Regions from separate parts of the Homo sapiens genome. Here region 1 is linked to region 2. The links come from fine-mapping of genetic effects on gene expression. A gene starts in region 2. The other region holds a variant in brackets. All regions are shown on one strand. Distances are between the middles of the regions. Region 1 overlaps ARHGEF38 (Rho guanine nucleotide exchange factor 38). Region 2 holds the start of ARHGEF38-IT1 (ARHGEF38 intronic transcript 1).

Region 1 (17,010 bases), 28 kb after region 2:
GGTTTCCTAGATATGGAATTATGTCATCTGCAAACAGGAATACTTTCACTATTTGGATCCCATTTATTTCTTTCTGTTGCCTGATTGTTCTGGCCAGGATTTCCAATACTATGATGAGTTAGAGTGGTGAGAGCGGGCATTCTTGTCTTGTGCCAGTTTTTAAGGGGAATGCTTTCAGCTTTTGCCCATTTAGTATGTTGTTGGCTGTGGGTTTGTCATAGATGGCTCTTATTATTTTAAGATATGTTCCTTCAATACCTAGTTCATTGACAGTTTTTAACATGAAGGGATATTGAACCGTATCAAAAGCCTTTTCTGCATCTGTTCAGATGATCATGTGGTTTTTGTCTTTAGTTCTGCTTATGAGATGAATCACATTTACTGATTTGCATATGTTGAACCATCCTTGCATCCCAGGGATGAAGCCTACTTGATTGTGGTGAATTAGCTTTTTGATGTGCTGCTGGATTTGATTTGCCAGTATTTTGCTGAGGATTTTTGCATTGATGTTCACCAAGGATATTGGCCTGAAGTTTTCTTTATTTGTTGTGTCTCTGCCAGTCTTTGGTATCAGGATGATTCTGGCCTCATAGCAGGAGTTGGGGAGGAGTGCCTCCTCCTCAATTTTTTGGAATAGCTTCGGTAGGAATAATATCAGCTTTTATTCGTACATGTGTTTGAATTTGGCTGTGAATCCCTCTGGTACTGAGCTTCTTTTGGTTGGTAGGCTATTTACTACTTACTCAGTTTTGGAGCTCATTATTGGTCTGTTCAGAAATTGAATTTCTTCCTGGTTCAGTTTTGGGAGGGTGTATATGTCCAGGAATTTATCCATTTCATCTAGATTTTCTAGTTTGTGTGCATTGTGTGTTCAGAATAGTCTCTGATGATTGTATTTCTGTGAGGTCAGTGGTATTACCTCTTTTGCCATTGCCAATTGTGTTCATTTGGATCTTTTTTCTTCTTTATTAGTCTAGCTAGCAGTCTATCTTATTAATTTTTTCAAAAAAACTAGATCTTGGATTCATTGATCTTTTGAATGGTTTTCATGTCTCGATCTTCTATTCAGCTCTGATTTTGATTAGTTTGTGTCTTCTGCTAGCTTGGAGGTTGGTTTGCTCTTCCTTCTTTAGCTCTTTTATTTGTGATGTTAAGTTGTAAAATTGAGATCTTTCTAACTTTTCGATGTGGGCATTTAGTGCTATATATTTCCCTCTTAACACTGCCTTAGCTGTGTCCCAGAGATTCTGGTATGTTGCGTCTTTGTTTTCATAGGTTTCAACAAACTTCTTGATTTCTCCCTTAATTTCATTATTTACCCAAAAGTCATTCATGAACAAGTTGTTTCATTTCCATGTAATTGTGTGGTTCTGGGCAATTTTCTTGGTCATTAATTCTAATTTTATTGTACTATGGTCTGAGAGAGTGGTTGGCAAAATTTCAAGGATTTTTGTACATGTACTGAGCATAATTATATGTCTGATTTTGTGGTTGATTTCAGAGTATGTGCCGTGTGGCAATGAGAAGAATGTATATTCTGGTTTTTTTGTTTGTGTCTTTGTTTGTTTGTTTTTTTGAGACAGAGTCTTGCTCTGTTGCCTAGGCTGGAGTGCAGTGACACTATTTCAGTTCACTACAACCTCCACCTTCCTGGTTCAAGCAATTCTCCACCACTAAGCCCGGCTAGTTTTTGTATTTTTAGTAGAGGCGGGGTTTCACCATGTTGGCCAGGCTGGTCTCAAACTCCTGACCTCAAATGATCCACCAACCTCGGCATCCCAAACTGCTGGGATTACAGGCATGAGCCACCAAGCCGGGACTATTCTGTTTGTTTTTTGGTGGAGAGTTCTGTAGAGGTCTAGAGGGCATAATAGAGACTGTAAGGAAGAAGCATTATTTGAAGTACTCCTTGTCTGTTTAACTCACCCCACCTGCAGGAGTAGTTGGAGGCCAAGAACAAGTCCCGGTGCCCCGTAGCCCCATACAGGATTCCCAGCTTTCTCTGCCTTGAGCCCAGCATCTGTGGCTTCCTTCTGTCCCCTCTCAATGCCTTTTCTTTGAAGATTTACTAGGAGTGCACCAGTCTTCCCAGTGTTTTGGTCACTTGGTGGGAGATGTTTCTCCTGCTTGCATGTAGTTGGCCATCTTGGAATGAACTCAGGAATAGCATCTTTCAAAAATTCTGAAAAGCTCCCAGCTTTGAGCACTTCAAATAATGTTCTTCCTTACATTCTCTATTATACCCTCTAGACCTCCTAGTAAACATTAGTTGAACCTTCTTATTCAATCCTCAACATCTCCTAACCTCTCTCACATATTTTACATGTCTATTGCATTCTATAAAATTTTCTTGGCTTGTTCATTAATCTCTTTAACTTTGTATAATTTACTATTTAGTTCATTATACAACTCAACTATTTATTCAACTTAGCCATTTATTGATTAAACAAAATAATTAAATTTTAATTATTATGAGCTTTTATTTTAAGATTCTGTATTATCTTTTAAAATCCACTTGATCATTTTTATATTCTCTTGTTTCTTGCTTATAATTTCAAACCATTACTTGTTTTTTAAACCTATTAAGTACCCTTTTTATATCTCTAATAATTTCAGTAACTTAAGACTTTGTGGATATAATTATGCTATCAATTTTATTTTCTGCATCTGACTCATGGTATCGTGTTTCCGTGTGTGTTTTAGGATTTCTTAAAATCTCGTATTCCTATGGCCGGGTGTGGTGGCTCACGCTTGTAATCCCAGCACTTTGGGAGGCCGAGGTGGGTGGATCACGAGGTCAGGAGCTCGAGACCAGCCTGGCCAACCCAGTGAAACCCCGTCTCTACTAAAAATACAAAAAATTGGCTGGGTGTGGTGGCGGGCGCCTGTAATCCCAGCTACTCAGGAGGCTGAGGCAGGAGAATCACTTGAACCAAGGAGGTGGAGGTTACAGTGAGCCAAAATCATGCCACTGCACTCCAGCCTGGGCGACAGAGCTAGACTCCGTCTCAAAAAAAAAAAAAAAAATCTCGTATTCCTTGCAATGTAGCTGCAAGGAACAGTTGAAGCCTGACTTGAGTTTCTATTCAATTTCATTAAGCTTTGTTCTTAATTTCCTTTATTCTATTTTCTTTTGGCTTATTGTATTTTTTTTTTTTTACTTATTTAGTTAAGAGTCAAATCATTTTCACTCTTGCTTCTTTTCTTGTATATGAATTTAAGCCTATAAATTTTCTGTAAGCAGTGCTTTACCTACATTCCACATGTTTTAATTTGTAATATTTTTCTTATCCTTATAACAGATATCTTCTATTCACTTTAGTCATTTCTTCTGTGACCCATCAGTTATTTTGTAGGTTTTGGTTCTCTATTAATTCCAAAACAAATGAGTCCTAACATTTTATTTTTGTTATTTATTTCTACATTAATTTCATGGTAGTTGTGGTTCTCAATTTACTAATTCTTTGAAATGTTATAACTTAATTTATAATGTATTTCTTCAAGTGTCCTTAAAAATACTATGTAATCTCTAATTATTGGAGTAAATATTTTCTGTCCTAACAGTCTATCAGTTACTGACAGTTATGTTTAAAATATCACTATTAAGACTGATTTGTCAAATTCTACCTTCAACTCTTTCACTTTTTGCTTCACATGTTTTGAAATCATGTTATTTAGTACATACAGAATTAGAATTTTCATATCTTCCTAATGAATGGGACACTTTATCACTATATAGTGCCCACTTTTATTTTTGCCTTAAAGTCTATTTTATCTGTGTAAAATAGCTATATCTCACCCTTCCTTTAATTAGTATTTGCTCAGTATATATTTTTGTACTTTCATCTTCTTGTGTGCTTATGTTCTCTACTATAAATGGCATATAGTTGTTGTTTTTTGAATACAGTTTGATAATATGGTCACTTGAGTTATGATTACACATAGATTTGAATCGACTGCCTTATATTTGTTTTTCTCTTTCGGTTTTCTCCTTTCTTCATTTGAACTGCTTTCTCTCCTCTACTGGTTTTGAAATTTTACATGCTATTTTATTTTAATGGTTGGCCTTGAAATTTTAACATATATCCTTAATTTAAAAACATCTAAAGTTCATTAATGTCTTTAGCTTTTCTGCAATATCACAAAAATGTTTAAATGTTTAAAATACTTAGAAGTCTCCACAATCTCTCCCAAGCTGTCCTGTCCACCAAATCTCTTATCCTCTCCCCAGCGTCCTCCTACCTGGCCACACATTGCTCTGCTTCCTGTTCCTTAAATAGGCCATGCACACGCTCACCTTAAGGTTTTCCACTGACCAGTTCATCTGCTAAAAACCACCTCTCCCAGATATCTGCATGACTCTCTCACCTTTCAACTCTATTTCAGGCCTTTCCTGCCATCTTATTTAAAATTGCACACGTTTTAAGCTCTTCCTAGCAGCTTTCATAGCATTATTTTTCTCTATATCACTTATCACCTTTTAGTATACTAAATAACTTGTTTAAATTATTTATGTTCTTCTTCCCCAACTAGAAGTAAAGTTCCATAAGGAAAGGAATTTTTTTTTTATTGCTGTATCCCCAGAGCCTAAGATGATTTTGGGCTCATAGTAAGCCCTTACTATTTATTTGTTAAGCATTCAATAATTTCAGATCTCAAATCCATATGAGAGCCAGTTAGTGTCCTTGAATTGTTAAGGGATGCTATTTTTTTTTCTATTGATCACCACCAAGGCTGAGACAAATCATTTTATTGATGTCTCTTTCTTTGGAGCATTATTTTTACTTAGTGTGTTTCCTTTTCTGATCCTTTATCTGGATATGTTTCCTGAGTATGTTCCCTTTTCCCACTCTTGATTTAAAAATTGCCCAATAAATAAATATTTTTATCTATTTATGGTTCAGTTCATGAAAAACAAATAGGAGAATAGATACTGTGCAGACAACAGCAGTGTCTGACACAATTATGCTGTTGTTACAAAAAAGATCCCCACTATATACTGTTATAGTTGCAAAAGCAAGTTGCAGAAGAATATGTATATGAGCTTGTTACTGTTAAAAAATAAAACAAAAAACTGAACTTCTGTAAATATGTGTATTTGTATGTGCATGGAGATATTTTGAGAAGCCTATACACTACACTAGAATACAACCAATAATACAGTAAAAATAATATTACAATTAATAAATAGGGATTGCATCTAATAATAATAAAACATTTTCAAGATATCCAGTATAATGCCAGGCACTGTTACAAGTGTTTTACAGACATTAACTAATTTAATCTTCGAAATCACTTTATAAGGCTTTACTAACGTTATCCTTAACTTACAGATGAGAAAATTGATACAGGAAGAGCTAAGTAACTTGTCTGAGGTAATAGATCTAATAAATGGTAGTGGTGGAGTTTGAACCCAGGCAGTCTGGCTCCCAAGGCTATGCACTTAAACCTCTACTATATCTACATCTCTCTCTCTATCTGTATCTATGTCTATCTATCTATAGCTATAGCTATTTCTATGTCTATCTATATATAACTTAGATAGATATTACAATTACATATTATTTTATAATTTACAAAGAAAGAAAGAAAGAAATTACCTCTCCTTAAATCCACCCCAAAATGGCAGTAGTAGTAGCAAAAGCAAGAAGAAAGGAAAAACAGGATAGGATAAATTCTAAGCAAAACGTGGCTATCAGTGAAGATTGTCTTCAGTCCTCCCCCAACACCCCTTTGCCTTTGGGTGCTGTTGCACTTCTCTAAGAGATCGAGGTTCTCCCCACGCATATACCCAAGCCAGATAAACTGCTCAGGATTCTAAACCCCAGCTTTGTTCTGACTTTCCTCCGAAAGCAGCATCCCTATTTTTTTTCCTCTTCCTCTTCCAACTGAACTAGCTGTCCACCCACTTTAGAGTCATGCATTTTTCTTGACAAGTTGGTAACCACAAAATAATGGGATAATTGTTTGCTCTAGATGGTGGAAGAGTTTGAGACTGTAGAGAAAGTAACCCTATTTTTCCCATTCCCACAGAAATAGTTAACATTTGTATTGTTTTAAAGATCTCAAGGAGCTTCCACATGGAGCTGCTCATTTAATTCAGTCTTCATGATCACACTGTGATGGTTTTCATGCATAGTTTACAGGTAAGGAAACCAAGGCTCTGTGAGGATAACTATTAGTTATTAGTCTACTGTGTTCTCACAGCTGAGTGGCAGAGCTGATCTCAAGTCAGATTATCCTTTTCCCAAACTGCAACAACCTCTTTTTATATAAACTTCCTTGGCCAGGAATCTCCACATATATTATTAATGAATTTTGTGGCTAGAATAGTAAAAATTCACATCACCACTGGAAAAATAAAGCTTGAGTGTGAAAGAAATACAGAGTGAAGTCAATTACATGGTACTGCTTTAATATACAGCTGCATATTTCTGTTATAGCAATCTGAATATCCTTTTAACCTTAGTTTCACTTTGGCTTTGACATTGTATTTTATTATATGCAAACTATTGGGAAACATTTATTCTTAAAACAATTTTTCCTTCTTTCCTAAATAGCCCCTCCGTTGCTTTTTTTTTTTTTTTTTTTTTTTGAGATGGAGTCTCCTTCTGTCACCCAGGCTGAAGTGCAATGGCACTATCTCGGCTCACTGCAATCTCCGCCTGGTGGGTTCAAGTGATTCTCCTGCCTTAGCCTCCCAAGTAGCTGGGATTACAGGCATGTGCCACCACACCCGGCTAATGTTGTATTTTTAGTAGAGATGGCGTTTCTCCATGTTGGTCAGGCCGGTATGAAACTCCTAACCTCAGGTGATCCACCCACCTCGGCCTCCCAAAGTGTTGGGATTACAGGCATGAGCCACTGCGCCAGGCCCCCTCGGTTGCTTCATCCAGAAATAAAAGACGGGCTATAGCTGACTGCTGATTTGGGCGATATGTGTTGGCAATATTGTTGAGTTCCAAATACTTTTATATATAAAAGCTAAGTATAACTAAAAGATAAAATGTTTAAATGCAGAGAAAGATCTTACAAAAACAAAATGTGTCCACAATGCATTGCAGAGTTTGTTGGTTTAAGAAATGCAAACATAGAAAGTGTTTAGAAACCTGACCATAAAATGATGCAAGTGAAGTTTTTGTTCCTACAATAAACTTGAGTCAAAAGAGCAAACAAAGATATCTCATAAGGTTGCTCAACTGTAAATTCTCTGAGAGATTTTTA[C/T]ACCTGAGGGAGAAGTTGAGTATTTTCACTGACACTTTATTTCACCCACCTTGCCCCCACAAATTTGTTCTCAACAAGTTGTTGAGCAGTATTGGAAAACCTAAGCATTTTTTAATTGACAAAATCTGATGTAGTACATTTTAAAGTGCAGCAACTGAAACGTCTGTGAAGCAGGTTAAGTTAACATTGTGATTGAGTCCTGGAATTTAGAACTAAAAGGAACCCAAATGCATGTTTTAGGGATATTCCTTTGTCGACGATCAGGAAAAACTTCCTTCTCCTTGCTAGGATCCCAAATAATTCATAGATTAATTTTATAAGGCATAGAAGGTTTAGAACCTGGAAAAGCAATGTCAGAGCAGTTTTTCATCAGCATCATTTTTATTTTCAAGGAAACATTAAGTGATAATTGGGCAGTGTCCATACTGGTTTGTCAGCTCTCTTACGCATGAGATTTCCTCCTGTGCTCTATTTCACATACTCCAGGAGTAAAGGACGTCCCTCACACCTCTCTGCCCTCAGTCTCCCCCACCCCCACCCAATCATTTCACTATGTATAATACATCAAAATATTATGTTGTACATCTTGAATATACACATTTTTAAAAAGAAAGGGCCACAATGCAGCCTCCTCACTGCAGCTCCTCTCATAAGGTGTCCTGTCTTCCTCTTTCATATCCAAAATAATTCATTGTAATGACACGTGATTGTAACTTGCTTTTTCAAATCTGGGGCACTGAGAGGCAGGCTGCTTCTACTTTCCAATGCAAATATTACAAATTAGGCTGGTGCAGTGGCTCACACTTGTAATCCCAGTGCTTCGGGAAGCTCAGGTGGGAGGATTGCTTGAGCCCAGGAGTTTGAGGCTGCAGTGAGCTGCAATTGCACCACTGCATTCCAGCCTGGTTGACAAAGTGAGAACCTGTTTCTGAAAACAAAAAACAAAAAAACAAATTAGCAAGCACCCCCAAATTCTCATAATATAGATCAGGATTGGAGGGCTACAGGATATCTCATGCATTCATTCTCTCTCCTTGAATAGATTATCTGTTCTTATATAGCTCATGTGGATTATGATTTATGATTATGATTATTATTTTGAGACAGAGTCTCATTCTCTCGCCCAGGCTGGAGTGCAGTGGCACGATCTCGGCTCACTGCAAGCTCCACCTCCCGGGTTCATGACATTCTCCTGCCTCAGCCTTCAAAGTAGCTGGGACTACAGGAGTCCGCCACCACGCCCGGCTCTTTTGTTGTATTTTTAGTAGAGATGGGGTTTCACCGTGTTAGCCAGGATGATCTCGATCTCCTGACCTTGTGATCTGCCTGCCTCGGCCTCCCAAAGTGCTAGGATTACAGGTGTGAGCCACTGCTCCCGGCCTCATGTGGATTATTTCCTTAGCACTAAATAGCCCAAATCTCATAAAACCATGTGGTTTTGGATGCTATTTGTCAAAACTTCCTGCTTTCCTGATGAAGGAGGGATTGGTAGGCGATAAATGGTTCCAAACATACTCACCTGTGGGTCTGGATTGTCCAAAGATCAACCTAGTATAGCTTCCAAACTGATGCTGGAATTACTCTCCACAGATGTTTGAATATTGAGTCTCTGCCTTAAATGCTGAAGTTAGTGGACCAGAGAGAGAGCTCATTACTTTTTAAAGTGTCTGTTCACATTCCTGGGGCAGTCTCTTGACATCACACCATTAACTCTTCTGCTATATTGTTTCTCCAGTTGTCTTAGCTTTGTTCCCGGAGTCAGCCAAGAAAACACTGTTTATTTTCACTTTCATACATTGTGACCTGTACATTTATTTTTTACTGTACAGACTCTTTATAGGCCCTTTTGTAAAGTCCCACATTCTCAGGGAATGTGTCAACATTGAAGATGTCTCATATACCAGTTACTAGAATCATGTTAACTTTAAATGAAATATAATTACTTCTGCAACTGCAGAGACTAAGATGAAAATTAAGCTTCAAGCTTGAAGCAAATCCATTTACACACACTCTTACATACACAGACTCACACACTGCCCTGATGTTTATCGCCACTTTGATTTCATGGTCTGTGGTCTGGTTTGTGGCTTCCAAAATTTTACATTGCTCTGGGGAGCTCGTCCTTGAAGATACTTAGCTTTCTTACTTGAATACTTCATATAAACTTTTGCTATGTGTGAGGCTTCCCATTTATCTCATTATCTCCCCAGTACTGTGACTTTTTAAATTAAAACTTTCTGTTCGACAGTTCAAGAATTTTGAAATAACAAGATATGCTTGGTATAAAAGATGAACCATGAAAAATTTCAGTTGAAATTTATTTAATCCACCACTTCTTCACTCCTCATGGATTCTGATAGTGAATTGAAAAGAAAAACTCCAATCATGCAATTGTTTTCCATTTCATTGAGATTTGGATATTACCCACTGAGAATGAGAGGTAATTGTTTTTAATAGCAGTGACAAAATTCATTTTCATTTACTAATTAAAGGCATTTCATTTACTAATTAAAATTCTTCCCTTGATTTAAAAGCAAATGTGAACGGAAGTTGTGAACTGTTTTTTTTATACATTTGATCTCCAGGCTGAATACCGGCTTTATAGGCTAAGCTACAACAATGGGATATTTTAAAGAAGCCACGATAATTGAGTATCATTTAACTCACTTGTTAGAGGAAGTTCGCTCCCACTTTTCTTCTTGCTTATAGTTTTGTAGGGGAATGTCCATATATCACTTCCTAAGAAAACATCATGAGGATACCTTCAGCCTTTTTCCTTGTTAACAAAGTCCTTCGAAGGCGTTGTTTGTAATGAAGGAAAAAGAAACCTCAGCAGAATGCCTCACCTGTATATGTTTTCATTTAACAGAAAAGATGACTCCACAGGGTGAGTGTTCTGTAGCTGAGACCTTAACCCCAGAGGAAGAGCATCATATGAAGAGGATGATGGCAAAGCGGGAAAAGATCATTAAGGAGCTGATACAGACAGAAAAGGATTATCTCAATGATCTAGAGCTGTGTGTTAGGGAAGTGGTTCAGCCCCTGAGAAATAAAAAGGTAAATATATATTTGAGATTTTTTTTTCTCTCCCATATCATAAATAGGATCACTAGCACCATGAAATTGAAGCACTCAGGTGTATCAATGGGATGATGTGCCTTTCTCCCCAAAACAGCACTGTTCTCAGCTCTGGGGTTACAGTTTAGTACAAAACAAAGTCCTGCCCTTGTGGAGTTCACTTTCTAGTGCAGAAAAGGAGGAGTCAGACAATACACAATAAATAAATAAGCAAACAAAATTAAGATATGTTATATGGTGTGAAGTATGGCTGAGGAAACTAAAGCAGGGAAAAGGAATGAAATAAGGGGACAAGGCCGGGTGCTGTGGCTCATGCCTGTAACCCAGCACTTTGGGAGGCTGAGGTGGGAGGATCACCTGAGGTTCGGATTTCAAGACCAGCCTGGCCAACATGGTGAAACCTCATCTCTACAAAATTACAAAATACAAAAAATTAGCTGGGCATGGTGGCACACGCCTGTAATCCCAGCTACTTGGGAAGCTGAGGCAAGAGAATTGCTTGAACCCGGGAGACAGAGGTTGCAATGAGCCAAATCGCGCCATTGCACTGCAGCCTGGGCAACAGAGTGAGACTCTGTCTCAAAAAAAAAAAGAGAGAAAGAAAGAAAAAGAAAGAAAGAAGGAAGGAAGGAAGGAAGGAAGGAAGGAAGGAAGGAAGGAAGGAAGGAAGGAAAGAAAGAAAAAAAAGAAAGAAAGAAAGAGAGAGAGAGAGAGATGGGGACAAACGAGTGGTCATTCTATTTCAAATAGAGTGGCAAATGAAGACTTTTCCAGTGGAGGACATTGAGCAGAGAACTGAAGGAGGTAACAGAATGGTCCAGGCAAAGTGGAATACAAGGGCAAAGACTCCAAGGAGTGATAACTCATCATTAGGGTTGTAAATACACAAATCAAACAATATAGAAAAACAGAAGCTAGAAAGTGAAAATGATCAGAAATTCCACGGTCAAAGAAAATTACCATTAACACAATCAGACATATCCCCTCAGACATCTATTTGAACACTTACATATACATATACAAGCACATATATTTTTACATAAATGTGATCAAAACTACAAATAATATCTTGTAACATACTTGTTTCATCCATAAATCTGTTACATGTATCTTTTTATGAGTACTAATATTTTTCAATATCTGTCTACTATTACAGTGGTTGAGATGTTTTGGATGTTTGTTTCCTTATATCCTTAGAATAAATTCCTAGAAATTAATTGTTAGGTCAAAGGGTATGCATATTTAAGATTTTGAATAAAATGGACAACTGCCAAACAGAAAGTCAATATGATTTTAATATTCATTCCTATTAATAATGATTCAGAGAGCATTTTCTCTGCATCCTCTTTAATGCTGAGACTTGTTGATTTCATAAATGTTCTTTTGATTCCTTCTGATAAATATCTTCTCATATATTCATTGGCCTTTTCTGTTATTCATATCCATGTTTTTTGCTGTTTTAAAAAATGATGGTTTAATATTTTTCTTATTATTTTATAAGAACTTTCTGTGTATTAGAGTTATTCTTTTTCCATCCCACATGTTGCAAATAATTTTTCTGGTAAGTCTTTTGGTTTCTAACCTTGTTTAAGATGTATGTTTATTTTGTTTTTGCCATGTTTAGTCAAATATATCCAACTTTATTGATTCTGAGACATATTTTAATATTACCCATGATTATAAAAGCATTGCTAGCCTGTCATGCCCCCAACTATTTACAACATTCAGGAGCAGATTTTATATTTCTTAACACAGTACTCTTCTCAGATTTTTTTGTTTTGTTTTGTTTTGTGACAGAGTCTCGCTCTGTCACCCAGGCTGGAGTGCAGTGGCGCTGTCTCTGCTCACTGCAAGCTCCGCCTCCCGGGTTCATGCCATTCTCCTGCCTCAGCCTCCCGAGTAGCTGGGACTACAGGTGACTGCCACCACACCCGGCTAATTTTTCTGTATATTTAGTAGAGACGGGGTTTCACAGTGTTAGCCAGGGTGGTCTCCATCTCCTGACCTTGTGATCCACCCGACTTGGCCTCCCAAAGTGCTGGGATTACAGGCGTGAGCCACCATGCCCGGCCTCAGAAATATTTTTTAAAAAACCATCTGGCCTACATATTAGGGAAAACCAGTATAGGTCAAGGCACTTCTGACACAAAAATTGTTTTTTGGTCTAAGACAATGTATAAAGAGGAGTAGCAAAGAAGGCATGGAAGCCTTTTCTTACACAGGAAGTCATCTTCAGTTTGCCTCATGACTTTTATTTAATGCTTACTATATGTCAGATCTTGCTCCAGGCACTTCATTAGCATTCTCATTTAATCCCCCACAGTTCCCACGCCAGAATTACCAGACACTTTCTGAAAACCTGGAAATTTCTTATTCATGATGTAAGAGTAGAAGTAATATTGATGGTCGTGATAAAAATTTGCTCTTTAGTGTCATTGCTACGTATATAAATGTTTTCTGCTGTGTTTTCTTTATTTTATTAACATATAAACCAGATGTATTTGATATAACTGCTATTCTGGCAGATATCAATGGTTACTAACATGTTCATTTACATACTTATTCAAATGTTGATTTTAAATGCACATAGCATCAGACTCTGTCACTACCTTTCCTTATGGTACAGTCCTCCCTGTCAACTCTTATTCTTTGAAAAATTTGGAACCTAGCCCACTGTGTCTATGTATTCTCACTCTCTCGCTCTCCTCCTTAATTCTGACATCTTTTTTAGGTAATTTCAATATTCATGCAAATAACCCATGCAACATTCGGGCCTCTCAGTTCTTTCACTTTTTCATATCCAACAATCTTTCCTCAATCCCATTCAGCCACTCACGCCAGGGTCATAACCTAGAACTTGCCATTACCAACAACTTCATCCCCTCAAAATCAGAATTTCAAGCTTACTATTCTCTGATGCCCAAGCCTACTCCCACTGGTACGATTTCTGACAACCTTCTGATGGCACCGAGACCTCCAAACTATGGACATTACTACCATTTCTCTCTTCATCGGGCCCAAAGATGCTTTAATTTCTATGGGTCCTTCATTATAATCGCTCCTTGCACACGACCTCAATTCCTTTTTCTCTCTTTCTTTCCATTTACTTCCCTGCAACAACTTACTCGAGTGAAGTTCAATTTTTCGTCTACTTCACACCTTTACCTGTGCAGCAGAATTAATCTCTTATAAAATTCATGACCACTTTCTACTGGGGCCCCCAGTAATGTTTCTGAGGAGATTCTCTCACATTCTTTTCCTCACATGTCAAACACCCCTTTTTCTTCTCTCAGCTTATGCCCTTTTCCATCATTTCATAAAGAAACTAGAAACAATAAGATGTGCACACTCCCAACACCAAATCTACCAACTTACTGCATCTCTACCTATATAAGTTGGCTTCCTCCTATTACCGGAAGCAATGGTTCCCGCTTCTAATGAAGGATGACCTCTCTCTGCTAGTGCAGTGGATTCTATCCCCTCAGACTGAAAGGTTTTACTCCAGTCTGTGTCCTTTCTCTCTCCTGAATAATTAGTTTACCCTCCTTATGGAATCATTCATAGCACTATTATCTACTATCTTAAAAACCAAAATCAAACACAAACAAACCAAAAAAATTGTTTTCCTCGATCCTAAAGGAATCATCTATATTCATTGTCTATTTTAAAATTAAATATAAAATATTTACTAGGTATAAGAACATTTGTGACTAAAACATGTTTCAAAATAAGCACAATTTATCAAAAATCTGTCCCTGCGATTGGCTAATGATCAATATAAAAAACAGTAAAAAACACGCCCAGTTGCAGTGGCTCACACCTGTAATCCCAGCACTTTGGAAAGATCAGCACAACCAGGAGGATTGCTTGAGGCCAGGAGTTCGAGACCAGCCTGGGCAGCATAGGGAGACCTCATCCCTATTTAAAAAAAAACAGCCAAGTGTAGTGGCTTGCTTCTGTAGTCCAGGCTACTCAGGAGGCTGAGGTGGGAGGATCACTTGAGCCCAGGAGGTTGAGGCTGCAGTGAGCCATGATCACGCCACTGTACTGCAGCCTGAGAGACAGAGCAAGACCCTGTCTCCAGAAGAAACAAATAAACAGACAGACAAAAACATCAAATATACAAGAAAAGTCTTTCTTTGAATTCTTAGTCCACATTTGTATCAAATGGACTAAGTTTACCTTATATGAAAATGTTGCCAATTTAAATAATCTGCTACATTGGTGAGTCAAACTAGCCCCGCTAAAATGAATGTCATTGATAGCTGTATTCTTATATATTTTCTCCAATTCTTTTTTGTGCTTTTACTTTTTGTTATTTTTCTTTACTTGTTTTTGGCTTCCTATGAAACTCTTATAAGCAGTTCTCAGAATTGGTGTCTTAGACCATGCCAGGTAAAACTTTTCCATTATGGTAACATTTATGGTCGTTTATTTGGCACATTTGGCTTTTGCTCTCAATACTGTGAATTACAATTCTCAAAATTCTAACTCACATTTTCTAGGTTGTTTTATTTGAATTGTTTATAGGTTGTTGATTTTTCACACTTTGACCTTGTTATTTAGCTATCTTTCAATGCTGTCTGCTCTCTGCCTTCCTCATTGTGGACTTTAATTTCATTCTATTAGTTCTCTCCACTAAGGTAATAGCAATTCTCTTAAGGTTCTCAGAATTCTCATGTCAGATCTGCCTTTTTCCCACTTCTCAAAACTTTTAACCTTTGATTAAGTAAATAAATGTTCGGGTACTCATATGACTCTTATCAGCGTTTATATGAGTGCTGAGGTAGTTAGTTGACACCACCAGTTCATTCAGTTCACTACCTTTTCAATGTTCGTTAGTTCTTTCCTGTTCTCACTTCCCTTCTGGACATTTAACTACCAGTGTCTTTGAGCACAAACCACCTGTCATCACTGTCAAAATGTGTAGATTAACACATACAGTTTTCAGATAACTATAGCAATAATCTGTAAACCAAGCTTAGCTAAACCTGGGGCAACATAAATATTTTACAACTACAGGTTAAGCTAGGAGAGAATTTGGGTATCATCGGATTCATCATCTTTTCTCTATACAAAATCAAACTCAGACCACTCCCAGTAAAAACAAAACAAAACAAGTCATTTTATTTAAGTGAAAATTGGATGAAGGAAGTTGAAAACTGAGGAAAGTACCAGAAGTTCCTGGCTTAACTGAGTCACCTTGTATGAGTGAATCAGTGTACAAATGAGTGATTAGATCTAGCCCTTGACTGACAACTGTTCTGTGACAATCGTGCTGTAAACTTTAATCTTAACTTCAAGGCTTTTCTATGTCAGACCTTTACCGAACTGATAATACATCAAACTCAGCAGTTACACATCTTCTTTAATAGCAGCACTGTGAGAGGTTTTGCAAAGAAGGCAAACGTTATCCACATCAGTTAGTGTTGAAACATTTAGTGGGAAAACAGGTTCTAGTTATTTATTATCCAAACAGGGCAGTGAGAGATACTCTATGTTTTTGGCTATAAGTCAAAGTAAATCAAACTAGAGTAGACTAATCTAACAATGGAAAGGGCAAAAAGTGATTGAAAGGAATAGCTGGAGGAATTTGAGTACTGTACTTATTTTTATTTTTCTTTGTTTTTTAATTATTTTCAGTTGCTAAAATTCACATAGTGCAAATCTACCAAAGATCTCAAGGGGGCTATAGAATTCCTCAGCTACTCGGTTTCCTCCCCTAGAGGCAAACTCCATTACCAGCATCTTTTTACCCATCCAATGATATTTCAAGTGTATGTGTTTGAATGCACACTTGGTAGATTTTATTTCTATAACAAGAAAGTTATGTGTATTTATTTTGAATTTACTCATATTTGGTTTAATCATGTGCCTTATGCTCAAAAATTTGTGTTTTCTAAAAAATGGTTTAAAATATATATAATTTTGTATTGACAGGAATTCAGTTGGAATTTTCTGTTAAAATTTTGATATACTATATGGCAACATTATATAAATAATTTTCACTAGAAAAAATATATAGAGGAAAATAATCACCTGTAGTCTTGCCACTTAGAAATAAGCACAATAATTATTTTGGCTTATTGTTTATACAAACATACTGAAATATTTTCTGGAATAGGAATTATACCATACACAGTTGTCCCTCAGTATCTACGGGGCACTGGCTCCAGGATCCACCAAGAATACCAAAATACATGGAAGCTTAAGTGTCTGACGTAAAATGCAATGGTTACATTTACACATAACCTACACACATCCTACTGTATACTTTAAATCATCTCTAGATTATTTATGGTACCTAATACAATGTAAATGCCATCTAAATTGTTGTTATACTATATTGTTTAGGGAATAATGATAAGAAAGAGAGTCTGTTCAATACAGATGCATTTTAAAAAATATTCTTGATCCACAGAGGACTGATTCCATAGACATGGAACTCAAGGATTCAGAGGGTTGACTGTATGCCATTATGGAATATTTTCCCCTGATGACAACTATATATTTACACATTTTATTTTCAGCCACAAATAACAAATATGAAATTGAAAATTTAAAAAAACTTATTAAAATAAGGGACCATAAATTTGATGTTCATGCTCTCTCTCAATTCAGAGTCCTTGAATGTAAAATGGTGCCTATTACCAGTGTTATCAGTCATACCTAGGTTAGCAGTGGGCTGTTTCAATGTCAGGATGGTGG
Region 2 (17,010 bases):
CCATTTTCCTCCTTAGGGTCTTTCTTTTCTTTAACGAAGGCATACAGAGCACTCAGCACATTCCCAGAGCTTCTTAGAATTTTTCCCTTGAGAGATCTCAGGAAATATGAGGAAAAACAACTTCAAAAAAATTAATGAAAGGCCTATCACTGTCTGCCTTTCTCTCTTTTAATCCCTGCCCTATCCTTTCTACTTTCTAGAAGTGTAGTGCCCCTTCAGTTTCAAACATTTTTCCTCTCCTTAAATTCCCAAGGTGGGATGCCCTTTTCTGGCACTCCGTCTATGAAAGGGACAGGGAAAAGATCTTATAGAAACTGAACCCTGACACGGGGCTTATTTTCCTAAGGACCAAAACATAAAAGGACAGGGTGGGACCATGGAAGGATTAATTTCAGGCAAGGGCAGCCTGTGGAGAGTGAGAAATCTGAAAAGGCTCTAGGCTTCTATGGGCATTCCCCTCCACTTCTTCTGCCTGCTGCCAGATGACTCTCACATGTGAATCCTTATTTCCTCAGGAATGCGGATCAGGGTTTGGCAAGTATGTTTTCAGTAAATAATTGCTGAATGTTCAACGCTTAAAGGCAGAAGCATAACTTTGAGTGTGCACAGTAATCACTGAAAATGATTCTGTACTCACCGTTTTGATGCAAATGCAAATTCTCATAGCCCCTGCACTGACTCCGTGGGTCACCTGTGAGTAACTCTAGCCAAAAGCCACGCACAAGCCCTGGTCTGCCTCCAGGCAGCAGACCACAACACAGTGCCCTGAGTGCACCTGCACACACCCATGGGCACACATTAAACCCATAAACGGCGGGTTATGCTAACGTGTACTTCCTTCCTCACTGCCTCACCTTGTTCATTTTCCTTTTTCCCCACCCCTCACCCCATACAATAGGATTTTTGTTTGCTTCAGTAGCATGTGACAGCACAGTCCCTGCTTTGCCTAGCTCTGTGCTGCAAGTCTCTCAGGTAACAGGTGGCAGCTTCCCCTGTTGGATTCTAGGTTTAAAAAAGAATGACCTCATGTGGGTGGAGCTCTGGGACTTCGTAGAGGTGGTGGCAGTCACAGCCAGGTAACCCTGGAGTGAAGCGGTTTAGTTAGAAGGGAGCAGATAAACTCGTCACTCTAGTAGCTTTAACCCTCACCCTGAGGCACCTTAGCAATCAGCCATTGCCTGCAAGCCTCCAAAGCTTGTCTTTGCCTAATATGGAGCCCAAAGAAGCCACTGGGAAAGAAAACATGGTCACCAAGAAAAAGAATCTGGCCTTCTTGAGGTCTAGACTCTATATGCTGGAGAGAAGGAAGACTGACACTGTGGTTGAGAGCAGTGTTTCTGGGGACCACTCTGGCACCTTGAGGAGGAGCCAATCTGACAGGACCGAATACAACCAGAAATTACAAGGTAACCAAAAAGAAATCAATTGTCCCAGTTACTGCACTCCCAGCTCCATTTCTGCTACGTTTCCAATTGCAAAGAAAACACACAAGGCAGAGGGGAAAATTGAATACCACCTCTCCTTCCCACAAAATAAGAAGATGAAAGTAAATGTGACCTATAAATTATAGGGAAAAAAATTTATTACGTGATTCAATGTTAAAGAGTCAATTCCGAATTACTCTTAATATTGCTGTGTTTTTCTTTTTTTTTTCCTGGTGAGGGTAATCATTTTTCTTCTAACTTCCTCTTTTCTTCTCCCTTCTCTACCCAACTTAAGAAGTGGGAAACACTGGAAAGCAAATGAGTTAGAAACCTACAAAAGATTGTTTATCTCAATGGGTAGATATGTGATATTACACCATGAGATATATCTAGGTAATGGTACTGAACTATGATTGTGGTTATCTTAAATAGGGGCATGAAACTATAATCGTGTCTGTGACAAAGAAGGAATGTTATAGTCAGAGAGACGGTATAAAAAGATTTGCTGAAATTCACTTAGGTGATTATTTCCTTTGAGTAAATTGAATAATACTCAAATATGGTAAGAAATGTTTAGCATGCTTATTTTGAATGACATTTGAGGAAATAACTTCAGTTTATTTTGTGATGGTACAAAGATAATTTGGCACAGTTATGATAGCACATCATTTGTTTCAGGGCCTTAATCTATATCCTGTCCTATCTATCCTTTCTTTCTCTCCTGTTTCCTGAAGGTCATTTGTTCTAGTAAAATTTCATTTTGATGTTGATATTGGGCAGCATTTTAAGTCTTTTCTTCGGTACTTGTTATGTGGTCCTCCAGAACTTGCCTCTCCTGCTTTTAGCACAAGGTGTGTCTGAACTCTCATCATCCCACTGTGAGCTGTCGTTTTGGATTTAAAAACTGTGATGAGGTCAGAAAGACCGATAGGACATGCTTATATTTAACAAATCTCTTTCCACAAATATGAGCTTAGATTTAGTTATGCAAATTAATTAAGTTAAATAAGTTAAATTAAATGCATTTAAATTAAATCTAAAAATTATTACTATAAGTTAATGTGTAAAAATAAAAAAAAAATTACCAGTAGTTCAGCACTAAAGCACAGCATCAATCTTATCCTCAAATACTTTTTTTTTAAAATGAGGGAGAGCATTGTTTAATCTTTGAAATTAATTTTTCTCCAAGCAATAGATACATTGGAAAGAATGGATGTCTTAAAATTTCAACTTTTATTTTAGATTCAGGGGGTATATATGTGTGTTTGTTACTTGCGTATTTTGTGTGATGCTGCGATTTGGGGTACAAATGATCTCATCACCTGGGTACTGAGCATAGTACCCAGTAGGTGGTTTTTCAGCCCTTGCCTCTGTCCGTTTCTCGCCACTCCAGTAGTCTCCAGTATCTATTGTTGCCACCTTTATGTCCATGTATGTCTAATGTTTAGCTCTCACTCATAAGTGAGAACATGCAGTATTTGGTTTGCTGTTCCAGCATTAATTTGCTTAGGATAATGGCCTCCGGTTGTATCCATGTTGCTGTAAAGGACATGATTTTGTTCTTTCTTCTGGCTGTGTAGTATTCCATGATGAATATGTACCATGAGAATTTAAAATCATACACATTTAGTTTCTAAACCTGGTTCTTCAACTTACTACCAATTAGAACTTGAGCAAATTACTTGAAATATCTGAGCCTCAATTTTCCTGTCTGTGAAAGTGGGACTAATGATACTTGCCACATAGTGTTGTTGGGAGATTGAAATTAGATAATTACAAAACATCTAGTATACTGGCTGATAAATTTTAGGAATAATGGGTACCATAATGATAAAACAGAACTTGCCCAATATTAATCGAAGTTTGTATACCTTATTTCTCTTTTTCAATTCTTTTTTGTCCTTTGATAAAGAGACCACATCTAGAAATTCAGGAAAAGCCCATTGCTTTATCCCTAATGACATGTTTTTTCTGTCTGAGTTTCACTAATTCAGCATCTATCAGAGTCTCCATTAGCAAAATAAAAACAGAAAATAATTTTTGCTATTCACAAATTTTTGCTTACTAAATTTTCCTAAAAAAATAAGTCTATGACCACACAAGAGAGCAGACATGGGTTGGTTACTTTGCAGAAGACCTCAGACTTCTTACGCACTTCATTTGATTTGTGGCTTTCCTGTGCTCTGTTGGATTCTTTGAAGGTGGAAGGCAAAACTCAGCAGTTAATACATGCTTCTAGTCTGTGCTTGAGAAAAATCACCAAGAAGTATAGAGGAGCACATAAGCCATAAAGATAGGCTGGCCTCCTGAGAAGTAACATCTTAAAAACGTAACCCTTAAAAGAATCCAAGTCTGATTATCGAACGCCTAATAGAGCTTTTAGCATGGTTCGACTAGAACAGGGAAGGCGACAAGGGAAGGCATTTTCTCATTAATGTTCAAAGCAATCAGTTCTGTGCGTTTGTTCTCTGGCCTGTACGATACCCATTATTATGCAGATGAGTCCTAAATCACCTTAAGAAGCTCTTTATTATTCAAATGCCGAGAGATTTTCCTCTCCCTTTCTTGGAACTGGTGGTCCCTGGGAGGCACTGAATAAACACCTGGACTGGTTAGAGCCCTCAGATAGATGGCCTAAAGCTCTTGTGAGGTCAAAGAGTGCTTTCAAATACTGGAATTTCTGGCAACACCACATTCCTCAAATTATTTAGCTGGTTATTTAATTAGTTATTTAATTGGTTGTCCTTCAATGCTATATTACCTGAGTAAAATTCACTGCTCTAACTCTCTGGGGAAGCAAGTTCTCTGGGTTCCGTAAAATGTAAGATTTTTCTTTGGTGCTCTTGAGCTTGTCTTTTAACTCATGATACCTAGTCTATCTGTTCAATTCAATTTCTCACATCACTTTAGTAGCATGAAACTTAAGTTGTAATAACAATTTTAAAAATGGTACACTGGCTGAATTAAAACGATAGAACATGGCTCTAACCAGGACATCCTAAAACCTTTGCAGAAGATTGTGATCACATCAACATAGTCATTCCTACTAAGCCTGGAGTTGTATAATAATAGAAAGGCCACCCTTAGGCTCCCTTACTCCTTGAACAGATTAATTCAGTTGACTAGCATTTATTGAATATGTTATACCTTGTTCTTTGAAATTAATTTTTCTCAAGGCCCTTGATACATTGGAAAGAATACAAATTGTAAAATCATACACATTTGGTAAATTGACATTTATTGAATGTTTTAGATGCTGTGTCTTGAGGGTTACAATGAACAGCAAAAACAGAATATGTGCCAGGAATTACAACTACAAAATCATCAAGAAAACATGTCTGACCTTTACTCCAAAGAGGCTCAAAGTCTGGTTGGGAAAGATAAGACAGGTAAACAAATAAATACAATAAAGTGGCATGATAGAAGTGGAGGTAGGATCAGTGGGTCCACAAAAGGAGGAAACGGTCTATTCAGGACTGCATGAAGGAGGTTGTCAGAAAATGGTGTCTCTAAGAAATGGTAAGGGTAGGGATGAGGGAAGGTACAGGTAAGAGAATGGCATTTTAACCTCTTCACTGTATTTAGCTCTGTCTGAAATGGTTTTTGTTTCCTTGTTTATCACCTGTTATTGACTGTTGTTCCCCTCCCTTTTCTCTCCCTCCCCGCTCATACACCATGAAAGAAACCCTATCTGTCTTGTTAACTGTTGCATCTCAGCAGCCCAGAATACAGTAAACACTCAGTAACTGTTAAATAGAGTGAATGACTTGAATGATCAGGCCCAAGCAGGAAACTGGTGTGAAGAAAGACACCATGGCCTGAAATAAGAGCCATTGTATTTATCTAAATATGTGAGGACACATGTTTCTATCAGAAAGATGATTCTTCAGTTAAATGAACATCAGAGATTAAAATGTACAGAATTTATATAATAAGTAATTCTTAGTGGAAGCCTGTTTCATTCCCAACTCGACCTTTCAGAGCACACAACAACCATATTTCAAAAATTCCTCTTCTATTAGTGACAAGAGCCATCTTAACTTCCACTAGCTCAATTCCTCATTTCCATTCTACTGGGAGCCATAGAAATTACCTAAATACAAGAAATTTAGTGGTTGAGTTGTAAAAACTCAGAAAGGGTTTCATAAATACTTATATACATGATCTCTACATTTGAAATATGCCTAATTTAAATAGTTATACAGAACTGTGTCTGTGCATATGCAGATATATATGTGTATATATATGTGTGTATATATATATATCTCCAGTATGTAGATATAGATATACATGTATGTACTTGTATGTGTTCGTGTGTGTACTTGAGACACTTTTTTGCAATGATTAGACTTTTTATTGAAAGTTACTATAAAATTTGAAGAACAAAAAGAACAAAAGTTTACTAACATTCAGGAGTCTTTTCTGAAAACCATATATGAATTATATCACTGACATTATAGGTTTCCTCTCAGTATGGGTACTATGGACTGAATGTTTGTATTCCTCTAAAATTCCTATGTGAAACCTAATCCCCAATGTGACAGTATTAGGAGGTGGGGTCTTTGGGAGGTAATTAGGTATTGAGGGTGAAGCTTTGGTGAATGGGATTAGTGACCCTTAAAAAAAAAAAAAAAAGGCAAGAGAGAGCTTGCTTCTCTCTGCTCTCAGCCATGTCAGGATACAAGAAGGTGGCCATGTGCAAACCAGGGAGTGGGCTCTCAGCAGGAATAAGATCTTCCGCATTAGGAATAAGATCAACTTGATTCTGGATTTTCTAGCCTGCAGAACTGTGAAAAATAAATTTTTGGTAAACTTAAGCCACCTAATCTCTAATATATTTGTTATAGCAGCCCAAACCAACCAAGACGGGTCGATTACCTTTATCCTCTATGGCCACACTAAACTTCTGGTTAATTTTCTGGCCAGTGCATATTTTTGTTTATCCAACACCAGGTGAAAAGGTGAGAATACATGGGTAAAATGCTATTACCCATTACCACTGCCGGTAACACAAGGCAAAAATTACGTCTCCATTTCTTAGTGTGTCTGTGGTACCTTCTATTTTTGCAAAGGCTATTGTATCATTCTAATTAAGAAAGGTTATCTTTATGAGACCCAAAGTTGTCTTAATATGGTGCGAAAGATGAACCACCCTACTGTATGAACTTTATACAAAATAACAGATTGTGCCATGTGGGGACAAGTGGCTCAAATAATAAATTAGACTTGGTAAGACTATGAGGGCATTTAATTTAAAATGTTTTTTAAGAATATAGACAGTCTGTCAGGGAGCAGAAATTAACACTGGAAGACTTGGTGAGTTTTGTTCAAGGCCAAATGAAGAATGGAGTAAAACAAATTGTCCAGCTTCCTGTGCATGTTTCTATCCCAGTGCTACAAACCCTTTTTGTTCGTGTCTGTTCTTTGATTAGTGAGTAGCTCCTTCCCCTTTATCTGCCTTCATACACTCTACAGTGAAATGGGAAGTATTTGAATCAGTAATGTGACACCAGTACAAACAGGTGTGTGTCATAGTTTGAAGGGCAAATCTTTCTAAAAGGCAAGACGCTTTAAAAACTCAGTAACTTTTGTCTTACTGCATATATAGAAACCAGTGTAAAACACGGTATTTTACTTTCCTATTTTTTTCAGTAGAGACATCTTGCAGTTTTTAGAAGGACCATTTGTGTCAAATAATGTGTGAGTCACAGAAATTGAGACTGTTTGAGCTATTCTACTACTACCATATTGTGATGGGCAAATTTATTCCTATGTTTGACCGATATGACTTTAGGTATAACTTTCTTAAAAGTAGCAAACACAATTTCTAGTTGTGCTTTTTTTTTTTGTTTATAAAAATTATGGGTTTATCAAAATGAGACATCAAGAGGAAGAAGGAATGAAAGAAAGGAAGGAGAGAGAGAAGGGGAGGGGAGAGACAGACAGAAACCAAGCAAGCAGCAAGAATGAATAGAAATATACCTTAAAATAGTAATAAAGTTGGAGAAATGATGGGAGAGAGAAAAGCACCCAAGCCACATTCATCTTTGTTTCTGTTGACACAGGAAAAGAAAAAAAAAAACCTCTGTTTACAGAATTACTTTTTCTTGATGCCATAATCATATTAGCATCAGTACCTTTATGAATATTGATTTCCTGATAAAAGTAGAATTATTGCAAGAGTTGCTAAATTTATAAGCAGTATCGTTCTTAGAACCAGTCAAGACTCAAAGTTATGGCTTATTTGGGAGTCCTACCTTCACTTCTAGACTGTTTCTGAGACTGTGGAATTTTCTGTTCAACAGGCCTCAGTACTGGCTCCAACATTTGCTTGGACCGCTTCTTATCCCATGCTCTCAAGGGCAGACTGTGGTTGCTGGTGTGCATGCTCTTAGGCCTAAGGCACAATTGATGATGGGGGTGTTTCTGGAGCTTGATCATGCTGGAGTGTTCAGATCATGTCTACCAGGTTCCTCTGGGTGGGAAAGCTGGTAGAGAGAAGAGTAGGGATTCAAGCCTCAAGATTAGGTAGGAGTGCGTGTGTCCCATGGTCCCCTGCCAAATTTTGGCATAAAACTCTGAGGGATATGAGAAATCTAAATTAGAAGTTGGCCTTTCAGATTGTTATAAAATATATTTATCAAGACAGAAGGAAATATCACATTTTATTTAATAGTTTGCCAGCTTCATTTATAACTTTTAAATATGTAGATCTGGTATGCTGGCCTCCATCTGTATCCTTGCTCCAGGTCCCACAAAGGAGGCAGCTATGTGTGGTTTTTGACTGTAATCTATTTCAGGATATAACCCTTCTTCTATACTAGGTTGTGAAAGTAAGAGGGAAGGGGAGGGAAGGAAGAGATTGAGTATTAGTGTTATGTTATCTGCTAGGAGCTATGCTAGCCAGATGCTGTCACACACACTGTTACTGAATCCCAACTTCTCTTCTGTTCAGTTCTGATTTTATCATTGAGAAAAATAGGTGGTAGGCCTTGGGTTTGAGATGTCACATGCTTGAAATATTTGCAAAATGGAATGAATTTAACTAGTTGACTCAGTAGGTATTTTATACATATGATTTACTAAGAAGTCAAAGCCATTTGATGGTTGCAGCACATGTTTTGTAATGTGATGACATTTCTCTGCTACCATAATAAAGCTTAACTTGCTGTTTTTCACTTTGGAATATATTTTCTTTCTTTTGACTTATAGTGGCATGTCCCTGCCAGACTGTCACTGTTTAATAAATACTTTTTTTGTTTAGTTGTCGGGGAACAAAATTACAAAGGTAGGTTAAGCAAAACTGTCTTATAGTAATAGCTTAATGATCTCCATTTCCTGCTTCATTGCGTATCTTGACACTGAAACTCATCTTTCTTTAATTTTATGCCTGTTGTCATTTATTTGCATCTCAATAAAACTTAATATATATCAGAATAACTGAGAGTCCTATTCTACAGCAATGAGAGGAGGGAATACATTTGCAAATGAAAAGAATGGAATTATGTGTGGGAAACAAGCAACTTTTTATCTGGATAGGTGATATTTCAGTAGAATTGTATGAAGTCAGCTTAAATTGTGAGTCATAACTTAAATGCAGCAGGAACACAGAGTGCTATGATTTAAGACTTTGTCCAAGGTTTTCTGAACAATGTTTTTCTTGATTAATGAATCAGAGAATAAATGAATAGTCTAAGATACCTGCACTGAAGCCCTCGATAGAGGATGCAATCTTAGACTGACATACAATTCTTACTTAAAGAAGAAAACTTAAAGGTCATGTCATCTAGCTACTACTCTAAGTATTGTGAGTCATTATAGCACTTCACAGAAACTGTTTTTCCTGAATGCTTCTTAATGTTAGGTCTCCAGTGTCACTACAAAAAGCCATCACAGATTTCTCCTTCTGTGTTTGTTGTGAAATGGTTGATGAAGACATTGTTTACCTCTCTCAGATTTTATTCAATGGAAAGCTGACTCTCCTTAAGAATAAAAACACATCCCCTCCCAGATAAAAACAAGCAATTTACTATATTTAGCTGCTAGGAGCTTAGGGTCAAATTTGTTTTTGTTCCCTGGCCTTTATATTAACTATTTTGTCTGTCTAAAAGTTTCTTTCCCATAGAGGCAGGGTGTGGTGGCTCATGCCTGTAATCCCAGCACTTTGGGTGGCCAAGGTGGGTCTATCGCTTGAGCCCAGGAGTTTGAGACCAGTCTGTGCAACATGGTGAGACCCTGTCTCTACTAAGAAAACAAAACAAAACAAAACAAAAAATTAGCTGGTTGGTGGTGCATGCCTGTAATCCCAGCTACTTGGGAGGCTGAGGCACAAGAATCACTCAAACCTGGGAGGCAGAAGTTACAGTAAGCTGAGATCATGCCACTGCACTCCAGCCTGGAGTCTCAAAAATAGAGTAGAATAATAGAATAGAATAGAATAGAATGGAATAGAATAGAATAGAATAGAATGGAATAGAATAGAATAGAATAGAATAGAATAGAATAGAATAGAATAGAATAGAATAGAATAGAATAGAATAGAATAGAATAGAATAGAATAGAAAAGTTTCTTTCCCCAGATCTCTGCAAGAGCAGATTTTTATCACTGAAGTCTCTGTTCGTCTTTTTTGGGAGTCCCTCCCTGACCATCCGACCTAAAGTGATGTAGGTAAGGGAATACCTTTCCTCTACCCTCTTAAATTCTGTGACTAGGACCTGTGAATTGTATAGACAAAAGACATACTAACAAAAGAAAAAGCATACACATTTTACTTGAGGTTAACATTTTTATGTGTCGTAGGAGGCTTTGTAGGAAGAAAGAAGTAAAAACCTCAAAGAAGCAGTTAGACCTAGGGGTTTACATAACATTTTAACAAAGGTCATAAATTGTGGAGATATGACAAAGCCAAAGTAAAAGAGTTTAGGGTTGGGGAAAGAAATTGTGGAAAAGTGACTAGGAAATACATGGGAGAAGCTAATGGAAGATAAGGGTTATTTTTGTAAGATTTGTTTGTGTAGATTCATCTCTGTGTCAACTCCCTGTCTCTGATGATGAGAATATTCCCTTCTTGGTGATACAGGGAGGGCACTTTTCTCATGGTAAATTTACACTCTGCTTTTAAGTAAAAAAGGAAAAGGCAGAGAGCCCTTCCTGCATCTGCTATTGAGCATCTCCAGCTCAAAATAATCAGTATCCCAAAGTGGCATATTTAGGGATGGTGTGTTCTGATCCCCCTCAGTGGCTTTCATACCATCTATTACTCTATGAAATTATACTACTTCATTCTATTTTTGGCTTTTGCTGTCATTTGAATATAATTCTCCTTGGGGAAAAAGACTTAGCATTTAAGCAATGCCTGGTATACAGTTATTCTGCTCAATGACTATTTATTGAATGACTTTAAAATATCCAGTGAATAATTACAACTATATTGATCCTTATGACATACTTGCTTTTACAATTCTGTCATTTTCACTTACCCACTATGTAATGGTAGTTAACTTTCAGTTAATTTCTTTACATTCTTTTTCTGTAAAGAAAGATTATAAATAAATAAATTTAATTAAAGAAGAGACTAGAAAGAGTTTCCTGGCCAAGAAAAATAGGATCTCTTTTTAAATGAATTTATTCAACAAATATTTGCTAGGTATTCGTATGTGCCAGGTATGACTAGGTCCTAAGAATGTTTTTTAAAATATCAGAAGCACACCCAGCCCACTGAGTGAGACAGGTTGTGAACAAATTATTGCAGTAATGTAACAAGGGCCTGAAGTATACTGCAAATTGGGTTTCCGACTTGCAAATTCTGAAATAGAGATTCGGGTGGAGGGGAATTATTAGGCAACATTCTGTGACCACCACCTGGGGAAGAAAAGGGAAGGACATAAGCCTGGGCACAGGGAGAGGCCGAGCTGTGATGTGGTCTCATTGGAAGCTTTAGCCAACTCTGAGGGAAGTTCTGAAGACAGATGATTTTTTGGAGTTGTCTCCAGTGTTGTGAAGGACCTGGGCCCTTGTATCACACTTTACGTTTGGGGATGTGGCTATCTTGGGAAAAGGCATGGCCTGAGAGGTGCTTTCATCTGAGATAATTCCTAAAGAGGGCATATCTGCTGGTTGCACTCCCGGCAGCTGAAATAATAATTTATCCCTTCCTTTAAGGGGAACGGGTGCTAACATGGCATCCACCACATATTAAGTGGTTATTATTATTAGAGACACAAATAAAGCAATATAGGAGCTATGATAAGAAAGAGCTTAATTGCACCTCTGAAATGCCAAAAGAAAATACACTGAAATCTGAATCTTGAAATCCAATTAGGACTTTTAGGGGCAGAAGCCATTCCAGGCAGAGGGATTATGCTGGTCCTCATACATGGAACAAGGTAATAATACTAATTTTTGTATTTGGGGATTTCTAAATGGAAGAGCAGGTACAAACACCAACTGAACATCTGTAGTAGGCACTTAGGTGCAGTACGTCATTTCATGCTCTTAGCAACTTTGCAAATAAGTTATTGCCATATATTTATAGATGATAAAACAGAGGTTAAGAGAGGTATAAGCATTCTCCCAGTGGTCACATAGCTATTAATAGCAACTGGTGAAGTCAGAGTTTTCCTGAGGTTTGCTTGGCTCCAAAGTCAGGGCTTTTTCAACCATCATGCAGTTTTCCTGTTCTAACCTTAGTTTTTAGTAGTAGTACCTGTTTTATGGTTTGCTCTTAAGAAATCAACTGATTTTAATAAACTTTTGAACAATACTCACAAGCATCAAGAGAACTGTAAGTTCTGCCAATACATTCATCGGCAATCTTGAAGTGAACAGTGACCAACAAGTATTTTTCAGTAGCTGTGTTATTTTATGCCTCTCAACAAAATGTTCTATGTGCTTGGAAATTAGAAAGATATGTACTTGCATTGAATAAGGTCCATACTTCACAGAAACACTAGAATATTCTGCTCTAAAAATACAAAACTGATTATCTGAATTATCTAGTCTTTGAAAACTCCTTGTCATCACTAACTACAGAGTACTTACCTGGATTAGGGTACTCAGTGAAAAACTGGGTCAGAATGTCAAACTACATGGCTCCTTTGCTTAACACTCCTCATTGCTTTTCATTTTTCTATAGCTAGCAGCAGTACCCAAAGAGGGGAATATATAAACCCCAGGAGATTTTACAGACAATCTATTGTGCAAAGAAAAAAATAGGTTTGTTTTTCAGTATTGCTCTTTGAAAATATTTATTGTTGTGCATGCTTCATAATATGTATGATACATTAATATGATACGTATATTAGAGGTGTATACACAGAACAGTTTAACTGACACAATAAAAACATTTGCAGTAAAATTCTGACACGCTACTACATGGATGATCATCAAAGATATTGTGCTAACTAAAATAAGCTAGTCACAAAAGGACAAACGCTATATGATTCTACTTATATGAGAGTAGTCAAATTCATAGGGACAAAAAGTAGAATGGTGGTTTCCAGGGGCTGGGGGAAGGAGGAAATGGGGAATTATTGTTTAATGGGTAGAGTTTCAATTTGGGAAGATGAAAAAGTTGTAATGATTGCATAATAATGTGAATGTATTTAATGATACTGAACTGTTTACTTAAAAATAGTTAACATTGTAAATTTTATGTCCTGAATATTTTACCACAATAAAAAATGATAAAAAAGTTTGGCGGCCCTTGGTTTACAATATTAAAATGGAATGTAAGGCTTTTCCCAATTTGACTCTATCTCATCTCTGGCCTGGAGGACAGTGTTACTTTTGTCAATGAAAAGAGTCAAACTCTGTGAAATATTTGAAGATATTTATTCTGAGCCAAATATGAGTGGCCAATGGCCTGTGACACAGCCCTCTGGAGATCCCGAGAACATCTGCCCAAGGTGGTCAGCCAGCAACTTGGTTTTATACATTTTAAGCTTGGGTCAGGAAAGGTGGGACACTCATCTTCTGCTAAAGACTTTAAATAAAAACATTTTCTGAAGTACCCATTTATTTAACTCCTCATTGCTCTGTCTGTGCTATGCTGATCACTGTCGGAGCCTGTAAATTCAAACCAATACCACTTCAGTATTTTTCAAGACAGGTAAGCTTTGTTTAATTCCTTTTTGAAATCCACTAATCTACTTTCTATGCCAATTAGCAGTCAGAGGAAATAAATCACATGCCCTTCCAATGAAGATAAAATATTCCCAGCCCCAGTATTTGAGCTTTCAAATTCAGAGTCTCAGAGGGTCTGTTCCTCCACATTTTCACTTAATACCTCACTGGCTCCCCTCCAAACCCTGTCTGACATGCAATTATTTTCAACCTATTTCACAGAAGTCTGCTCCATTCATCTTTCTGTGGGTCAGATTTCCATTGAAACTGATTTTAAACGATAAAAGATTTTACTGTGTGAAACGTATGTTGGTAGGGCTCGACGCAATGCTAAGCCAAGATTTTTTTGGGTTTATTGGGGCAGATATGAAATTGGCAGCATGGAGAGGGATGAAAGAACATTTATAATCATATCTGGGGGTTTCGTAATGATCTGTCTGGAATAAAACTGTATATTGAATTATGGGTGGGTGTTTGCACTATACGGGTAGAAAGGGAATCGGACTGATAGAGGCAGGGAGGGAGTGTTGGTCAGAAGTTCTGAACTCAATTTCTGGCTTTGTTACTTAAGGTAGAAGACTTACTCTCTCTAGAAATTAGCTTCCTTTTTTTATATAATGAGATAGAGCTGAGCAGAACTTATCACCTTATCTCCTCTACCTGCTCTTTTCCTGTTGTTCCCTATTTCTTTAAATGGCACCATGACCCAGTTAACAAGTCAGAAATCTGAGAGTCAGCTTTGACTTCTCCTTTACCCTCTGCATTGATTACTCACCAGTTCATGCTAATTTCACCTCTTGAATTTCCCTTGATCTGCTCTGTTCTTTCTATCTTCTTGGCAATTAGACTAAGCTTAACTCCCTCCTTCTTTCCCCTAGTGACTGGACTGTCCATGCGAAGAGCCACTTCACTACCCACAGGCTTCCTCCTCACCCTCCCCTCTCAAATCTAGTTCAGTGGAGGCCAAAGTGATCTTGCTAAGAGAATCTAATCATGTCCCTCATTTATTAAAAAATTCCTCATTGTCGAGATCTGTCTCCTGAGAATTTCTCTAGACTTGTCCCCTTTTCACAACCTCTATCACTTGTACTTCAGCTGCACTAAGTTGTTTTCGCATCTTTTTTTGCCACCAAGCCTTTAAATATACTATTTCTTTTGCTCATGACACTTTTGCATTTCTCTTCACCTTGTGCTACCTGTTTCAGATTTCAACTGTGTCACTTCTCCATAGGACTGATGTCCAGGCTGTGCTATGCTTGCATGGGTCACAGGTTATCATAATTCTATTTATACTAACTACAGTTTTAATTTTTTTATTTTTAATTTTTGTGGGTACATAATAGGTGCATATATTTATGGGTTACATGAGATATTCTGATACAGGCATGCAATGCATAGTAATTCCATCAGGAAAAATAGAGTATCAATCACCTCAAGCATTTATCCTTTGTGTTACAAATAACCCAGTTATACTCTCTTAGATATTTTGAAATGTACAATTAAATTATTTTTTTATTATAGTCACCCTATTGTGTTAGCAAATACTGGGACTTACTTATTATTTCTAACTATGTTTTTGTACCCGTTAATCATCCCCCTTTCCTCCACTACATCCTCCAGACTACCCTTCCCAGCCTCTGGCAGCCATCTTTTTTTTTTTTTTTTAAGAGACGGAGTTTTGCTCTTGTTGCCCAGGCTGGAGTGCAATGGCACGATCTTGGCTCACCGCAACCTCCACCTCCCAGGTTCAAGCGATTCTCCTGCCTCAGCCTCCCGAGTAGCTGGGATTACAGGCATGCACCACCACGCCCAGCTAATTTTGTATTTTTAGTAGAGACAAGATTTCTCCATGTTGGTCAGGCTGGTCTTGAACTCCTGATCTTAGGTGATCCTCCTGCCTTGGCCTCTGAAAGTGCTGAGATTACACACCTCGCCTGCCATCCTTTTACTATCTATCTTCATGAGTTCAGTTGTTTTAATTTTTAGCACCCACAGATAAGTGAGAACATGCAAAGTTTGTCTTTCTGTGCCTGACTTTTTTCACTTAACATAATGGCCTCCAGTTCCATCCATGTTGTTGCAAATGATGGGATATTATTCTTTTTATGGCTGAATAGTAAGTACTCCATTTACACCAGTTTTTAAATACTGACCAATATTTTAAAATGCAAAGTGATTTGTTTGCAGAATCTTTCTGGAATAATTCTTAATCTTTTAAATTTGTCTCATTCAACTCCTAATATAACAGCAGTGCTTTGGCAACTTGACTTTATAAAATTATGTCAAAACATTAAAGCAGTTTTCACAGAAACATACACATGGTATTTTACCCTCATATTTCATTAATTATGTAAGTTTCGTTAAAGTAATATAATTACAAAGAAGTACAACTGACATAATGAAGTCAGCTGTTGAACACAATTAAGTCTTGAAAAATATGCCCCTTGATTGTTAAGTGGAGAAGTACATAGACATCAGTTTGTGTATTTAAGGGAGATAATGGAAAATGTTGATTTATCTCATGACTTCAATACCCTGTCTTTACTTCTAGATTATACATATCTTGATGGTAAGAGCTGTTGTTTATTCATTTAATATACACAACACAAAGCACAATATCAACTCAATATCCAATATGTAATTTAAAAAATTAATATTAAATTAGATATAAGGTTTTTTTTTCTTTTATTATTATACTTTAAGTTTTAGGGTACATGTGCACATTGTGCAAGTTAGTTACATACGTATACATGTGCCACGCTGGTGCGCTGCACCCACTAACTCGTCATCTAGCATTAGGTATATTTCCCAGTGCTATCCCTCCCCCCCTCCCCCCACCCCACAACAGTCCCCAGAGTGTGATGTTCCCCTTCCTGTGTCCATGTGATCTCATTGTTCAATTCTCACCTATGAGTGAGAATATGCGGTGTTTGGTTTTTTGTTCTTGCGATAGTTTACTGAGAATGATGATTTCCAATTTCATCCATGTCCCTACAAAGGACACGAACTCATCATTTTTTATGGCTGCATAGTATTCCATGGTGTATATGTGCCACATTTTCTTAATCCAGTCCATCACATGAACAGACACTTCTCAAAAGAAGACATTTATGCAGCCAAAAAACATATGAAAAAATGCTCATCATCACTGGCCATCAGAGAAATGCAAATCAAAACCACAATGAGATACCATCTCACACCAGTTAGAATGGCAATCATTAAAAAGTCAGGAAACAACAGGTGCTGGAGAGGATGTGGAGAAATAGGAACACTTTTACACTGTTGGTGGGACTGTAAACTAGTTCAACCATTGTGGAAGTCAGTGTGGCGATTCCTCAGGGATCTAGAACTAGAAATACCATTTGACCCAGCCATCCCATTACTGGGTATATACCCAAAGGTCTATAAATCATGCTGCTATAAAGATATAAAGTTTTTTAACTCCAAAGACTATGGAATTTG

What was found. PIP is the estimated chance that this variant, and not a neighbour inherited with it, causes the effect.
Region 1: its variant is fine-mapped to the expression of ARHGEF38-IT1 in thyroid (GTEx, PIP above 0.99).

Annotation. Positions count from the first base shown.
Region 1 is chr4:105,579,155-105,596,164 of GRCh38, forward strand. ARHGEF38 (Rho guanine nucleotide exchange factor 38) reads left to right here. Exons shown (of 14, transcript NM_001242729.2): 2 at 10,094-10,281. Among named protein-coding and RNA genes, the nearest start is that of ARHGEF38-IT1, 26 kb to the left of the region's middle. The variant C/T (reference allele first, on the strand shown) is at 7,225.
Region 2 is chr4:105,551,556-105,568,565 of GRCh38, forward strand. ARHGEF38-IT1 (ARHGEF38 intronic transcript 1) reads left to right here and starts at 10,036. Exons shown (of 3, transcript NR_046840.1): 1 at 10,036-10,092; 2 at 11,747-11,810. It overlaps ARHGEF38 (Rho guanine nucleotide exchange factor 38), which reads left to right and starts at 1,065. Exons shown (of 14, transcript NM_001242729.2): 1 at 1,065-1,406. The coding sequence starts at 1,211. LOC105377352 (a long non-coding RNA gene) reads right to left here and starts at 729. Exons shown (of 5, transcript NR_188418.1): 1 at 638-729. RefSeq lists enhancers at 3,673-4,222, 4,774-5,323.